4 linked regions of the Homo sapiens genome follow. The protein of the gene in region 2 interacts with the protein of the main gene of each other region in a biochemical or structural test. Each region holds a gene or a part of one and is shown on either strand. Other genes may lie near its edges.

Evidence for each region.
Region 1: the proteins of MME (region 2) and EZR form a complex in vitro, tested with the Homo sapiens proteins (one study listed by BioGRID).
Region 3: of the proteins of MME (region 2) and AGT, one has a biochemical effect on the other in vitro, tested with the Homo sapiens proteins (one study listed by BioGRID).
Region 4: the proteins of MME (region 2) and LYN form a complex in vitro, tested with the Homo sapiens proteins (one study listed by BioGRID).

Annotation. Positions count from the first base shown.
Region 1 is NC_000006.12:158,774,046-158,778,209, forward strand, and holds part of EZR (ezrin), read right to left. Parts: intron 2,460-4,164; coding exon 2,363-2,459; intron 1-2,362. UniProt on the Homo sapiens protein: Probably involved in connections of major cytoskeletal structures to the plasma membrane. In epithelial cells, required for the formation of microvilli and membrane ruffles on the apical pole. Along with PLEKHG6, required for normal macropinocytosis.
Region 2 is NC_000003.12:155,111,319-155,114,818, forward strand, and holds part of MME (neprilysin), read left to right. Parts: intron 1-3,500. UniProt on the Homo sapiens protein: Thermolysin-like specificity, but is almost confined on acting on polypeptides of up to 30 amino acids. Biologically important in the destruction of opioid peptides such as Met- and Leu-enkephalins by cleavage of a Gly-Phe bond.
Region 3 is NC_000001.11:230,707,623-230,711,786, forward strand, and holds part of AGT (angiotensinogen precursor), read right to left. Parts: intron 3,232-4,164; 5' UTR 3,202-3,231; coding exon 2,373-3,201; intron 1-2,372. UniProt on the Homo sapiens protein: Essential component of the renin-angiotensin system (RAS), a potent regulator of blood pressure, body fluid and electrolyte homeostasis.
Region 4 is NC_000008.11:55,949,108-55,953,271, reverse strand, and holds part of LYN (tyrosine-protein kinase Lyn), read right to left. Parts: intron 2,814-4,164; coding exon 2,715-2,813; intron 2,592-2,714; coding exon 2,488-2,591; intron 1,307-2,487; coding exon 1,157-1,306; intron 1-1,156. UniProt on the Homo sapiens protein: Non-receptor tyrosine-protein kinase that transmits signals from cell surface receptors and plays an important role in the regulation of innate and adaptive immune responses, hematopoiesis, responses to growth factors and cytokines, integrin signaling, but also responses to DNA damage and genotoxic agents.

The sequences.
Region 1 (4,164 bases), on a different chromosome or scaffold from region 2:
TTTGTGAGTTCACAGCAGAAACCGCCTGGGGTGAAGATGACCCGTGAAAGTCAACACAAGATAAGGAATCCCACCGCCTCAAACTTTGGGCCTCTTCTTTTTTACAAGAAAGTTCGATGTCGAAAACTTGAACTTCTTCTGCCCAAAGTTTACAGACTGAGGTGGGGCAGTGCCTCGAGCAGCCCTGGGGTGCTGTGGGGGTGACAGAACTCCACCTCCTCAAACCAGCAGTGCCCACTCAAGGCAAATGCTGCCTCCTCAGTGTGGCTCCTGCCCAACCTGCCTAAAGGAATCTCACCCCCATCTTCTGATCCGGCTTAGTTTTTAATCACAGCTGTACTGTTAAATTTACTACCAGGAAGCATCTCAGTTGCCTTTTTAACCCTTTCCTTCACGTAAATGTAGGCTCACCAGGGTAGGAGCTTTGCCTTGTTGATGGTGCACACAGCCCTGGAAGAGTGCCTGGGACAGCGTGCCACCAGCGAATGTTTCTTTTGCTTACGAGATGGCTTCACATGAGGCTACTCTATAATAAAGGCACATGCACGAGATGCGTTACAATGGCTTCTGCTTGGGGCTTATTATGAAAATATTCTTCAGCTTTTCAAGAGATGGACTTATCATCAAACACACACACACACACACACACACACACACACACACACACACGCACAAACATTCTGAAACAGTCTAGTCCAGAGCTGCTGCTCTAGTCAAATTTTTAATAAGTGTTCTGAAAAGGCAGTAGCGTCACAGAGTACGTAGTAGCCTACTGATGAAGAGATTTCAGCATTTTCTTGCTCTTCTAAACTGTGCCAATCTTACTACCCAAGTGACATGAAGACGCTATGACCCTCCATTCATGCTGTTGCATAATATGAACTGCTGCCATGGAGCCTTAGAGTCTGCATTCAATACGCGTTTAATTTTAAATAACCGTGCAACTACCCACAGAGTAGCAGCCAAGAGTTTGCAAACAGCAGGAGCCCTTTTTTTTTTTTTTTTTTGAGACGGAGTCTAGCTCTGTCACCCAGGCTTGAGTGCAGTGGCGATCTCAGCTCACTGCAACCTCTGCTTCCTGGGTTCAAGCGATTCTCCTGCCTCAGCCTCCCGAGCAGCTGAGATTACAGGCGCCCACCACCACGCCCAGATAATTTTTGTATTTTTAGTAGAGATGGGGTTTTCACTGTGTTGGCCAGGCTGGTCTCGAACTCCTGACCTCGTGATTCGGCCATCTCAGCCTCCCAAGGTCCTGGGATTACAGGCGTGAGCCACTGAGCCTGGCCAAGACGTTTTTAACAAAGAAGAAAATACTTTCACAAAATTGTCAAGACCTGCTGATTTTAAATTATGCTAGACAAACCTGTATGTGGGGAGAAGTAACAGGACAATAACACCACATACTGTTCTAAGTGGATTTACCATTGCTAAGCAGTACCCAGTCCCAAAAGGGTTAACAAGACAACCAAGGTATGGACCACAGCCCATGTTTGCCTCTCCAAGCTTAACACTGTAACTAAGGAACCAAAATTACATGAGAACACAAAGTCCTTTCCAATCTATAATTTTCGTAAAATTCAGAACAGGCTCTAAGGTGGTAACAGAATTTCTTCAGGTGGCAATTTTTTAGAGAACTAGATTTCTGATTAGATAACAAAATCCTTACCCATTCTACAATGCTACAGTTATGTGCGTATGTCTCAAATATTCTGAGTTAACAAAAGTTTAAATGTCAGCAGAATAAATAAAACCAAATTTACATAATGCACTGGTCTTTGCAGCTATTACAATCAATACTATCAGATTTCAGGACATAAAGTGTCGCCTTCTTACCATGTCCTCCCAAAATGACTGCCTGCCAGTGTCACCTGTGTGAGGATGCACACCTCTGACAACAGAAGTGGGTGAAGCCCCGATGAAACCTTGGGCACCAGCAATGCTTGGGTGCAAGTCTGACTGTCCCTATCTTGGGTAAGTTCCAGGACAGCTCTGAAAGGCAAATCTGGCCCTTGAGACTCGCAGGTCCCACTGTCCGTCAGGTGCCGGGGAGAGTCCCTGCACCCAGGTGGTCAAGGGGACAGGCTGGCTCTCCACACCAAAAACACAGCATTTTGGGAAATGCTTATCATTTGGCCAATGGCTCAGAACTGCCCTTTTCTTCATAAGGAATGAGAATCATTTGAAAAGTTAAGTGGTCTCCCCTGCAGCAATTGCCTGGCCCACAGGATCTCTGGCCCTCAATGTAACCTCATGAGGAGTTTGGACTATCACTGGCTACTCGTCACAGTATAACTTGTCCGTTACCCTGACAAGTATAAGAATGAAAAACAGTAGCCCCTGAATAGAATCCTTTGGAACTTACAGGTGCCTTCTTGTCGATGGGTTTAATGACAAACTTTTTGTCATTGAAAGAGATGTTCCTGATTTCACTCCAAGGAAAGCCAATCTTTGGGGTTAACCTGAGGTTAAAAAGAAGAAGTGGATGGTTAGATGTATACATATGTTCTTGGATTGGCTAAGAGAGATTCGCAAATCAATTCTTATTAGTTCAATTAAAATAATATGAAGCTAACCCAAGAGGCACAATGTGTTATATGCTATTATCAAATAGTTCCCACCTGTCCTAGGTTAAGCCAAGTGGTTGGCTGCAAGGCATCTGCAACCTTAATCTGTTCCCATTTCCTTTGGTTTTTCCTCAGTCTAGGGCACCTATGATTACCCAGGCTGGTGATCTCGAGGTCAACTGAAATTCCTACCCAGGTACCTTGACCCTCCCCCTCAGGTATCTTCTGCTGTTCATTCCCACATCACATCACCACACTCACCTACCTCTCATCCTGCCAGAGCCCACTCTCAAGCTGTGTGCTGGAGCAGCCCTACTTTCAGTCTGCTGATCTGATTAATTTCCTCTCCTCCCATGTCAACACAGTCCTTAACTCAGCATCCAAGAGCTGTCAAATCCAGCCCCAAACTCCACGGTTCAGACCCACCTTTCAACACACAGTTCCCCAGGGCTGCCTCCCTTTCCCTTGAGGCCTCTCTTAACATACAGGCTCTTCTGCTACAGACTGTTGAATGTTATTTAAGTTACTGATCATTTAGTTCTATGAAACCAACAGGGAGGGCCAAGATCCCATCACGTTCCTAGACGTGCCATACTCAACAGAGCTTGCCAAGAGAAACGGACAGAGGCCTTGCTATGCATTCTGCTCCTCTGGTTCTCATTCCAGTGTGTGTTCTCCTGGCTGGACAGACATCTTCCCATGTCACTCTCCAACTTCCAGGACAGCCTTCAAACTAACCGCCCTAATGAAGGCCCCACAGGGCTAATCCTACTTAACCAATGCAATGCCATGACTGGCCAGACTCTGGCTTTTATTAGCATTCCCAAGTTCATCATGTGACTTCAAGACCACATTGCTCTGCTCACCTGACACTTCCCACCCTATTCTTCCAACACATTTTACCAGGGATAATGCCATTCTGGAAATAACGACAAATCCTCAAAACCACCATCCAACAATGCTGCCCTCCAAAGCAGTCCTTTCCAACATCCCACAAAAACCTTCATTTTAGAAGTAGCAGGAAGGTCAAGCAATCTATGGCCTACCAACAGCTTCAATACTGATGAGCAATACAGGTTTCGTTATGATCACATCAACTAGATCAAGGCAGTGGGGTGGACTCTGTAGGCTGAGGGCAAACATGTAAGCCTGACATGGCCCTTCTGGGGAATTAGCGCAGTCAGTCATGGTGTGCCTGCAGGAATGATGGCAGGACACTGGCCAGACCATGGTTCTAAATGTCAAAGCTTTTGTATACATCCTTTCTTTTACAGTGCTATGCTCTAGAATCACCAATCCCCATTAAAAAAAAACACACCTGGCATTCAAACAGACATGCAATGAGTTTGTTCTTTTATCTTCGAGATGTAATTTTCTTTACAGGTTTCAGAGCATTAAAGGGGAACTCCAGATACCACCTTGCCCTGCTACTGACTTCAGCCTATGTCCTCCTTACATTGAAAGGCTGTGAAAGTGGCACCAGGTAGGCATGTGTTGCTTCTGGAGCACTTTCTCCCAAAACACAAGAGCAGCCTGCTGGCACCAACAGAGAAGCTAGGATCCAAGCTCCGGAGGCTCCGCCCACAGCACATAGCACTGT
Region 2 (3,500 bases):
ATATTCATCAGAACAGAGAGCGCTCTTTGAAGTGATTGGATGCATCCATGCTCAGACAAGCTCGGTGGTCAAAGGGAAATTTTAAAGAGTGGCCCTGGAAGGAGTTAGCAAAGTTGCCTCTTCCTCTCTCTGCTCTGCACATCCCTCACAAACTGAATGTTATTTCTTTGGTTTGTTGTGCAGATGCAAGTAATTTAACTGTACTTTTTGCCCCCTGGGAGATGTGGGAAGTACAGTTGCTTTTACAGGATGGAGAATTTGCACTCATGATCAGAGAACTGAAACTTCCAGCCATCCTTTTTATTCAGAGTGTTTAAGGACCGGTGGTATTTCCAAATAGGCAGTAGGGCTTGTTCATGCTCTGCTTGTTCATTCTGCTTGTTCATTAATTGTTCACTACTTTTCTGAGTAGAGTTCATTGCTCTGTGATGTCGTGACAGAAGCTTTCATTTCCCCAGAAAGAGGAAGAAAACAGAAGTGCCCCCTCCAAATGGCATAGCCTTCACAACATTCAGTTTAAATGTTTTTAAGTATCTTAAAAGAGAAGAGTTATATATTGCTAAGTGTGTTCTTAGAATGTCTGTAGTTAGCACTTCTTTCAGGCTCTAGTTTTCTGGTTTTTCACTTTACATAATAATCCTCTATGTATTTAGGATCTTTATTTTTCACCTTTCCCGTTACCATATTTTTATTTCCTTCAAAATTCGAGGGAATTGCTTTTTCTCTCTACCTTTTTTAGATCAGTTTCCTAGTCTTTAACTGAGGTGTTAAAGTTGGAGTTTTTACTGGCAAGTCTTGACTGAGCACAGTGTTAGGCTCTGTGAGAGAGAATATGCATTTTCTATTTTCACAGAGCCACAGTCCAGGTGAGGAGATAATGAATTTGCATGCGAAAAATGAATATGTTGTGAGCTGATACAGACTTTTGTCAGGCCAGTCTTTCATAAAGAAGTATTTGGAATGGGCTTTGAAAATGCCTGAAATTCCAAAATGAAATAATATGAAATAATATTTATTAGTACGTATAGGGGCTGGGTAACATGCTCAAAGTTACAGAGGCAGAAAACCATAAGGTGTCTCACAGAAACTGAATATACTCATTTAACTGTGACAGATGGCTCATGCGAGAAAGTAGCAAAGGAGAAGCTTCATTCGTTCTATTAGTGTTAGAATGTGCTATGGAATCTGGATTTTATTATGATTGCAAAAGGATGGTATTGAAAACTTTGGAGTGGAAAATGACATTCTGAAGTATTTTGAGAATATGAATCTGCCTGTGGAGTACAGAATGGACATAGGTAAGAAGAGGCCTGGGGCCACAACTTTGTCAAAAGGGCACAAATAGAGTCTGAGAGAAAGAGGGTTTGAGACAGAATGGAAACAATGGGAAAGATGGAATGGACTCTGGAGGCAATGAACTGAGAACGGATCTGACCTCTGTGGCAAGGGGAGAGGAGGTGAGTGATGGGCTGTAAGAGAAGGTGGTAAGAAGACTCATAGATGATTCAGTCACACATAACCATAATTGCACCCCTGTTACCTAGGTGCTAGGTGATACAAAGAGATTAATCACATCAACAAAATGGTTAGGTAGACAGAGTAGGTATTTACAATGAAAAACTCAAAGTAGTCTCACATTGAAGACAGAGTGAGGCAATGAGCTCTCAGGAGTCAAGAGAAATATTCCTTGAAGTTTGGAGTCACAGAAGCATCAGGGAAGAGATGGAACATGAGCTGAATGTTGAATGATGGGTAGAATTTGGAAAGAATGACAGGGGCAATCAAAGCTGTGGGATGAGGAGGTTAAAGCAAAGACACAGGACTAAGAAAACACAAGGAGTGTTTGTGACACATTGACGAGGGCCATCTGGTTGGAACAGAGTTTGCATAAACCACCAAAAGAGGAAAAGGGGAAGGTAGGGTGATACGTTTATTCTGGTAAAGGTTTAGACACCAAGCTAAAGATTTTATTTTTATTTCTGAGATAGTCTCTCTCTGTCACCCAGGCTGGAGTGCAGTGGCGCTGTCTTGGTTCACTGCAACCTCCACCTCCCGAGTTCAAGCTATTCTCCTGCTTTAGCCTCCTGAGTAGCTGGGACTACAGGTGCCTGCCACCATGGGCAGCTAATTTTTGTATTTTTAGTAGAGTTGGTGTTTCATCATGTTGGCCAGGCTGGTATTGGACTCCCAAAGTGCTGGAATTACAGGCGTGAGCCACTGTGCCCTGCCAAGCTTTTATAATTTAACCTGGGAAATGTCAAGCCACTGACATTTTTCAGCAAGGTTGTGGCCAGTGTCAAAGAGTCTTTCGGGAAGTTTGGTTTGTGGAAGATGTGTAGAATATATCAAGATGAAGAACTGGGTGACTTCTAGTCAAAAAGGAATGATGATATAAACCAGGTACCAATCAGAATGAGAGGTATGGAAGAGGGGCAAAGGAATTACCAGTAAACCAAGGGGAAATAGAAATACAGTTTTACCCAAAGTTTCAAATCCAGGAGGCTATGATAGCAACTGTGCTGTATACTAAGGCATACAACTCATGAGATGACTGGTTTGGTAACAGTCCTGAGCGTTTTGTTTTAAAGAGCTGGGTCCTGAGGTTCCAGACAAGCAAACATGCCAAAAAAGTGGTTCAATGGGGGGGCTTGAGGCTCAGCTGGAAACCATGTTTACCATACCAAGTTTAAAAAATCCACACAGCTCAGCAATTGTTTGAAGTTTTTAATTAATTAATTAATTCATAAAGTGAAGTATTTTCAAAAGCTCATCTGAGAGCTTATATTCTCTTGATACAGATGAATTCTCAATTGCTCTTTTGTTTTCATTGCAAAACAGTTCAACTTGTATGAGACTCAAAGTGGGGAGGGCAGGAGCAGAATTTTCTCTGTTCCGGGTATAGACATTATGGGTATTGGGCCATATTCTCCTCTTCGTTGGTAATAATTCCTATTTTATACATCTTTCTATCAATTGCAGCTCCTACCAGAGTCAACGTCTTGATTGTAAATACTCAGTGTTGGTTGATTTGCATTTTCATCATAGTCCTGAAAGATAAAAGTGGACCTAAGAAAAACTAATAAGCTTACAGCCAGTTTTATAATGACAGACTCTATATAAACAAATGCAAATTGGATGTCAAATTTGAATTACAAAATTTATTTGAGCAAGGTCCAGGAAGTAATAACAGTGTCTTCAGATCTTTTCTAAAATGATAAAAATTCATTAACAATCTTCCATGGCTTGGAGTCTCAGAGACTTTCAAAAGTCACAGCACTTTGAAGAGCAGAGTTGGCAACTAAAGTTATCAGAGTGAAGAATGGCATGCTAACCTCAGGTGCAGGATGGCCAACTCAAAGTAGACCTCTATTCTTTGTTCTTCTGAGATAGGAACTAGCCAGAAACTTAGTTATTCAGGGGTGGGGTGGGAAGGCTGTGGGACCCAGGGTGGAAGGACCCACACAGTTCAAAATAAAACGAACCAACTATAGTGAAGGAAA
Region 3 (4,164 bases), on a different chromosome or scaffold from region 2:
TCCCCTTGCACGTTCCCTGCAGGGACCTCGGTGCTGCCCACCTGGGCTGGCAAGGCTTTTAGTTTAGAGGGGGGAAAGGGACAATTCTTTTCTTCCAACAAACTAAACTAAAAAAGGGAAGCTGCCTCCCAAAAGACGCTGGGATTTGACATGAGAGTGGCTGCCGTCTTCCCTCTGCTCGTCTGACATGCACAGCTCACCATTCTCATCCGGAGGCTAGGTAAATCTGTCGAGGTCAAGTCAGGACCTGGTGTCATGGAAACCACCAGGGCCAGCGCCCCATGCTCAGGAGCACAGCAAGCACTGGGCAGACGGTACCCTGGAGCCCATCAGGCCCCAGATCCTCAGGTCCTCTCTAGTGGGACACATCTAGCTGCCTGCTGAGGTCATGTAAATAGAACATCATTGCTAAAGGGAAACCTAGAGGTCCCGAGACAGCCCCCGATCTCCTCACTGGACAGACCATGTGGGCAGGAAGTGGCTGCCTCCTTTGACGGAAACTGAGGCCAGCAAAGTTAGGAAGTGGGGCAGGGTCAGGGCAGCATGCGGTGGAGGCCGGCGAGGATCCTGGGCTTCCTTTGAGTCCCGATGTGGTTGGCTTTTTTATTCTTCCTCCTCTTCCTCCTGGCCTGGCTCTGCGGTCTGGGTCAGGTGGATGTGCTCTCTTTCGAAGGGAGACCCATTTCAGATGCCACTGGCTTTCTTGCCTTTGCCTTCTGCAGGACCCTCCTTCTCAGTGAGCGCTCCTCCCAGCACTTCTCCTAGGGACAGCAGGCTAAGTCCATGTGTCCCTGCTCTGCCCTGCACAGTGTGCTGCCACCCTCAACCGGGCAACCCTCGGGCTGGCCTCTGCCCCTGTGACCAGTCAGTGCCAGGGCTGAGCAATCCCCCCATCTATCACCTCTCCCTGAACCCGAAGGGAAAGACCTCAAGGAGGTTGTTGTGGTAAGAAAAATCACTATGCGCCACTGAACCTCTTTCTCCACAGTCTTGTCTTTCACCTCCCGCCTGGCTCTCTGTCCCTCACGAGGTTAACATCTTGACAGAGCCTCCTCAGTGTCTCTTAGACACACCCCTCAGCCCCACCCCACCCATGGATTTGCCGAGCTGCTCCCTGAGCACGTGTTCCCGTGACTGTGTGCCTGGACTCTTGCGTAACCTTCAAACAATCCTCCCTGCCTCCAGTCTGCACACGGCAGGCTTCCGGGATGACCTCTGAACAGAACGCGTCCCCATTCCCACACCTACCAAGCATGGCGTTCAAAGTGTCTCCAGCTCTGCCCTCCCCAGGCCCATTTTCTGGTTCAACACTCATGCCAAGCCAACCGCCCCATCCTCGTTCCTTGCCCCAAACTCTGCAGGCTGGGCTCATCATGCTTGCTCCTAGCTTCACCAGCCCTGTTGCCCTCACTGCCAGGCAAGGCCTGCTCTCCGCTCCCCAGTGACCTCTGTCCTCTGAGAGCCCCGAGGCTTCCCTGAGTTACCTTGTGGAGCACGTTTCCCTGCAGCTCCAAATCCTAGGCATTTGCCCATTGACCTTTAAAAGCCTGGAGGCAGGGCCTATACAGCCCTCCTCTGGCCTCCTCTGAGATGCCAGGCTTAAAGTCTTACAAGTAGCAAATCCTCAACAAGTATTTGTTAAATGAATGCTTTAAGCAATCTGTGGCTGGGTGCAGTGGCTCACACCTTTAATCCCAACACTTTGGAAGGCAGAGGTGGGAGGATCGCTTGAGGCCAGGAGTTCAAGGCTACAGTGAGCAATGATGGCACCACTACACTGCAGCCTGGGTGACAGAACAAGACCCTGTCTCAATAAAAAAAAAAAAAAAAATCAACAATCTTTGTAGTAGAGGGTTTTCAGTAATGCCCCTCCTAACATGAAAGGGATTTAAGCAAGCCAATTGCTTATTTCTGCATGGGCCAGGGACCCCAGTTCCTGACCTTCTCAAGAGATATGAACCTGACCCTTCTGAGTGTAGAACTGGGCTGTGGGGCCAGGAGATGTGGGTTTCAATCCCAGGACCCCCACTGGTGGCTGTGCCATCTTGAGCAAGGCACTTTGTTTCTCCGAGTCTCTATTTCTTCACTGGTAAACAAAGGCACAAATACCTCTTCACCACATCATAAGGGGATTAAATGATGTAAGAAAAAGGATGTTGTATAGTCGTGCACATAGTAGGGCAGCAGGTCCAGGAGGTGGACGGCCCATCCAGGGACCCAGCGGAGCAGCCACTTCCCCACTTCTCAAGGGTGGTCACCAGGTATGTCCGCAGGGCTGCCCCCTGCCCATCTCCAAGGCCTGACTGGCTGATCTCAGCTACACATTGGATACTAAGTCCTAGGGCCAGAGCCAGCAGAGAGGTTTGCCTTACCTTGGAAGTGGACGTAGGTGTTGAAAGCCAGGGTGCTGTCCACACTGGCTCCCATCAGGGAGCAGCCAGTCTTCCATCCTGTCACAGCCTGCATGAACCTGTCAATCTTCTCAGCAGCAACATCCAGTTCTGTGAAGTCCAGAGAGCGTGGGAGGACCACAGGGGTATAGAGAGCCAGGCCCTGCACAAACGGCTGCTTCAGGTGCAGGCCTGGGGCTGTGAACACGCCCACCACCGTGGACAGCAGCAGCTGGGCCTGGCTATCAGCCCTGCCCTGGGCCACTAGCAGGCCCTGTACAGCCTGCAGGGCAGACAGGACCTTGTGCGCATCCAGCCGGGAGGTGCAGTTCTTGTCCTTCCAAGGAACACCCAGGATTGCCTGTAGCCTGTCAGCTGTGTGGTCCAAGGCTCCCAGATAGAGAGAGGCCAGGGTGCCAAAGACAGCCGTTGGGGAGAGGACGGTGGCCCCATGGACCACGCCCCATAGCTCACTGTGCATGCCATATATACGGAAGCCCAAGAAGTTGGCCAGCATCCCGACCATTGCGGCCCTCAACTTGTCTTCGGTGTCAAGTTTTGCAGCGACTAGCACCAGCTGGTCCTGTAGGGCCTTTTCATCCACAGGGGATGTCTTGGCCTGAATTGGAGCAGGTATGAAGGTGGGGTCTTTGGGCTTCCCGGCATTGGCCTTTGCCAGCTGCTCACAGGTACTCTCATTGTGGATGACGAGGTGGAAGGGGTGTATGTACACCCGGTCACCTGCAGCCAGGCCAGCCCAGGCCAGGAGGCAGAGGATGGTGGCCCTCAGGCTCACACCGGCAGGAGCCATCTCAGACTGGGGTGCTCGCTTCCGCATACCCTGAAATATCATTTTGCAAAGGGTGAAAGGTGGTTATTAACTGACCTTTAAGTGCCATCTAACCAGATCTTTCATTGTCTCAATATTCCCTGTCACCATTTAGCCCAGAATAAATCCATTCATGTCTACAAAAAAAAGAAGAAATGGATTCAAAGCTCCATGGAAAATATCTACATGATCCAAGTGCAAAATGCACCAATATCAGCTGAATTATGTCCTACCTCCCCCAACGGCCATAATGCCCGTGTTGAAGTCCTCAACCCCAGGACCTCAGAATGTGACCATTATTTGGAGACAGGATCTTTAAAGAGATGATTAAGTTAAAATGAGGCCATGAGGGTGAGCCCTGATCTAATATGACCTGTGTCCTTATGAGAAGAGGAGATGAGGACATGGACACACACAGAGGGAAGACCATGTGGGGACACAGAGGGAAGACCATGTGGGGACACAGAGAGAAGACGGCCATCTACAAGCCAAGGATAGAGGACCCAGAGGAAACCAACTCTGCTGATGGCTGGCTCCCAGGCTTCTAGCTTCCAGAACTGTGAGATAACACATTTCTGTTGTTAAACCCTCCCAGTCTGTGGTACTTATGGCAGCCCAAGCAGATTAAGACATGCTCCTGCCTGCAGCTGTAAGTTCTCTTCCTAGAGAAACAAGTGTGTGCCAATCAGTAGGTCTTTGTGGAGGCCTCCTAGACCCCTGAGATGCTCATTCGAGGGCCCTAGGGTGAGGGCTGGGGATGGTTTTGTCATCTCCCTGTGGTCCCAACATGCAGCCGGGATTGAGCACCACAGGCTCAGCCCAAAGTCCAAGTATTTCCCACGTGTCTCAACCCCAAAACCAGCTCTCAACCATCCCTGCATAGCGCTATCCCCTGCAGAGCCCCAAAGGCATGCATACCTAGCATGGCTTGCCCAATGATAGTTG
Region 4 (4,164 bases), on a different chromosome or scaffold from region 2:
AACCACAGGCTGCCAGATTGTCACACTTAATAAAATGTGGTTTCAGATTACTAATCCCACATTAAGCTTCACAGGGCACCATAGTGGGGACTCGGTCATGTCACCACTGGACCCCAGGCCCCAGAACACAGCCAGAGTACCACAAGCCCTCAGCATGTGCCGGATGCACACAGGAATGGGAGGGCGGAGGAAGGCAAGAATCTACAAAATCGGAAGCACGTTGCTCTCTCCGTGTTTTGGGACTCAAGCAAACCTATAATGTGCATCCCCTTCGAGCAGGTCATAGAAAGGAGCCGGGGCAACAACCACTCAACTGACTCCAATTACACAGGAAAGGGACCCAGAGTCTCAGGCCCAGGCTTCTCAGGACTGCAAAGTGGCACTGGAGACAGGGACATTGACCTGCCACTTCTAAATATTTCAGTGGTAGTGTTATATCCGTTTGACTTTACCAAGAATATACATTACTTTTACACACACACACACAAACACAGATCTGCAAATCTGCATTCCTATTCCAGATATTCAGATGCATTGTAAAAATATATGCAAAGACAATATATATTTTTCTCTTGGTAATTGTGGAACACTGAATGTCAAACAGCATGTACTAGGTGGGAAGGACTGGGAGAATTATTCACAAGGATCAAATCTTACTTTGTGTATTTAACTGTAGATTAATTAATTGCTTTTATTTTAGTATTTGTTTTTTGAGACAGAGTCTTGCTCTGTCACCCAGGCTGGAGTGCAGTGGCGCGATCTCAGCTCACTGCAATCTCCGCCTCCTGTGTTCAAGTGATTCTCCTGCCTCAGCCTCCCGAGTAGCTGGGACTACAGGCACGCACCACTATGCCTGGCTAATTTTTTTTTTTTCTAGTAGAGATGGGGTATCACCAGGTTGGCCAGGCTGGTCTCGAACTCCTGACCTCAAGTGATCCACCTGCCTTGGCCTCCCAAAGTGCTGGGATTACAGGCGTGAGCCACTGTGCCTGGCCTAACTATAGATTAATTTAGAACCACTTATAGAATATGACCTGCAACTGTATCTAAGAGAAATACGATGCATAAAAAGTTTTAATATAAAAATAGCGTTTGACGTCTTATACATATCATAACAAATATATCTTGTCTTGTTGAACCTTCAGTTTTTACTTACTTTGGTAATGTTTAATCATGTCGCTGATACAGGGAAAAGTGATTCGTGGAGAGATGTAATAGCCCCCATTATCCAGACTTCTAATTTTGTAGTGCTTAATAACATCACCATGCACAGGGTCAAAGTCTCTGACAGACAGAGAGAAGCTTCCTATGGGGGGAAAAGTGTAAGTAAATGTTTATATCTCACAAATAAGATCTGCATTATACAACAACTGCAGTACACATTTTGTGATACAAATATGCAAAATACATATATTTATGAAATTTGTATAAAATGCATAATTTTAAAAGTCCTATAAAAATTCTACTTGACAAATGAAGCTGGCATTTTGTTTGCTGTGTAGCTTGCCAACATACCATTTTCTTTCTTCATGATAATTTTTTTAAAATTATTATTTAGCTACATTTAAATTTTTTTAAGTTACTTTGATTTTCTTTTTTTTTTTTTTGAAATAGGTTGTTGCTCTGTCACCCAGGCTAGAGTAGAGTGGCACAATCATAGCTAACTGCAGCCTCCACCTCTTGGGCTCAAACGATCTTTCTACCCCAACCTCTCAAGTAGCTGAGACTACGATCATGCACCACCACAGCTGGCTAATTTTTTAATTTCTTATAGAAACAGGCTCTTGCTATGTTGCCCAGGCTGGTATCAAACTGCTGGGTTCAAGTGATTCTCAGTCTCGGCCTCCCAAAGCATTGGGATTACAGGCCTGAGCCACCACGCCCAGCCTAATTTTCTTTGTCTTAAAACTTCAGGATTTATTCAAATAATAATGCAAAAGGCTCAGCAAACAAAGCCTGGTAAGAACTGGCCACAATCATGTGTGCTTTCTACAGTACTTTTCTTTTCTTTTCTCTTTTTTTTTTGAGACAGTGCCTCACTCTGTCACTCAGGCTAGTTAGAGTGCAGTGGCGTGATCACGGCTCACTGCAGCCTCCCTTCCCTGGGTTCAGGTGATCTTCCTACCTCAGCCTCCAGAGTAGCTGGGACTATAGGCATGTGCTGCCAGGCCTGGCTAAGTTTTGTATTTCTTGTAGAGATGGGGTCTTGCTGTGTTGCCCAGGCTGGTCTCTAACTGCTGGACTCAAGTGATCCTCTCGCCTCAGCCTCCCAAAGTGTTAGGATTACAGGTGTGAGCCACCACACTCAACTATATTACTTTTAGTAGCACAACTAATCACTGAGGTTTGTTATTTGTTATCAAACCATAAAACTTTTACTACCAGAGCATACTATATGCCCTTTTTTCCCCTTGAGTAGCTCTAGAATAGTTTCTAAAAATAATTTCCTAAATAGTGTTTTAAAAGAGGCTTTGAACAATTTCCTACCTTTTAATGTTTCACTTTCTCTAATAAGGAAAGCTCCAGCGCTATTTCCTGGTGCCAAAAGCTGCCTTTCTGCGTCCTTCCTGGTTATATCCTTGAAAAACCACCTGTGAAGACATTTCAACATTTCCTGCATATTATGTTCCACGGCAAGAAAAAGGTGAAGAATATTAACAAGAAATCCAATGTGGCAAATAAAGCCACCAAGATGACAACACATGAGGACTCACTCTTCTGTTTCTAAGGTGTTGAGTTTGGCCACATAGTTGCTGGGGATGAAGCCTTCTTTTTTTGTTAAAAGGGACTTTGCTTTCCACCATTCTCCATGCCTAGAATAGAAATACACATCAAAAAGAAGCTAAAAGATTACATACTCCATGCATGTATCAAAATATCACAGATATCCCATAAATATGTATTTATGTACAGATATTACATATCAATTAAAAAATTAAAAATAAAGAAAACATAGACTTACCACAGGACCCAGCAACTATACTCCTTGACATATACCCAAGAAAGATGAAACCATAATGTCCACACAAAAACTTGTACATGAATGTTCAAAGCATCCTTATTTGTAAAAGCAAAAAGTAGAAACAACCAAAATGCCTATCAACTGATGAATGGACAAAATCTGGAATATCCATCCAGTGGAGTATTACTCAGCAGTGAAAGGAATGGAGTGCTGAGAGATGCTACAACAGGGATGAACTTTGAAAACATTATGCTAAATAAAAGAAGGCAGTCAAAAAGGACCACATATTGTATGATTCCATTTATGTGAAATATCCAGAATAGGTCAGTCTTCAGAGATAAAAAGTAGATTCGTGGTTTCCTAGGGCTGCAGAGAATGGGAGAGTTGAGGTGACAGCTAAGGGGTGCAGGGTTTCCTTTTGGGGTATTTAAAATGTTCTAAAATGGATTGTGGTGATGATTGCACAATTCTGTGACTATACTAAAAAAATCACTGAATTGTACACTTTAAGTAGATGGATTGTATGGTATTGTGAATTCTCAATAAAGCTATTAAAAAGAGAGAGAGAGAGACAAAGAAAAGAAGCCAGGAGTGAGGGTTTTGAATGTTCACAACACAAAGAAAGAATAAATGTTCCAGATGATGGATATGCTAATTACGCTGACTTGATCCGTACACACTGCATACATGTATCAAAATATCGCTCTGTATCCCATGACTGCATATAATTATTCCATGTCAACTAAAAATAAAAGGAAAAAAGTGTTTATATCCAAGACTCAACAGCTACAATAGCAATTGTCTCAAGATGTTTGTTTAGGATGGTGAAGGCGGGTGGAGAACATCTCTGGAACCCCAGAATCCAGTGGGAAAATTCACTCTCCGTGATGGAATTAAAATATGTTTAGAGACAGAAGCAAAGGAAAACAGCCTTACAACTAAAGCACGCATCACTGCGATCAGGGGTGCACAAAGAAGAGTTGGTACAAATGGCTCCCATCTCACAGAAACAAAAGGTTTGTAACTTGCCCCAGGATAGCTAAGAAATGCTTTCAAATCCTTATAGAAATGAGAGTCAAGGGAATACTGGTCCACAGTTCATGCATTATAAACTCCTTTGTTCAAACATCTAGTTATCATAGAGATGGACACTATGAAAAGAAGAAAACCATAAGACAATTCCAAGCAAGTGAGCTTCAGCA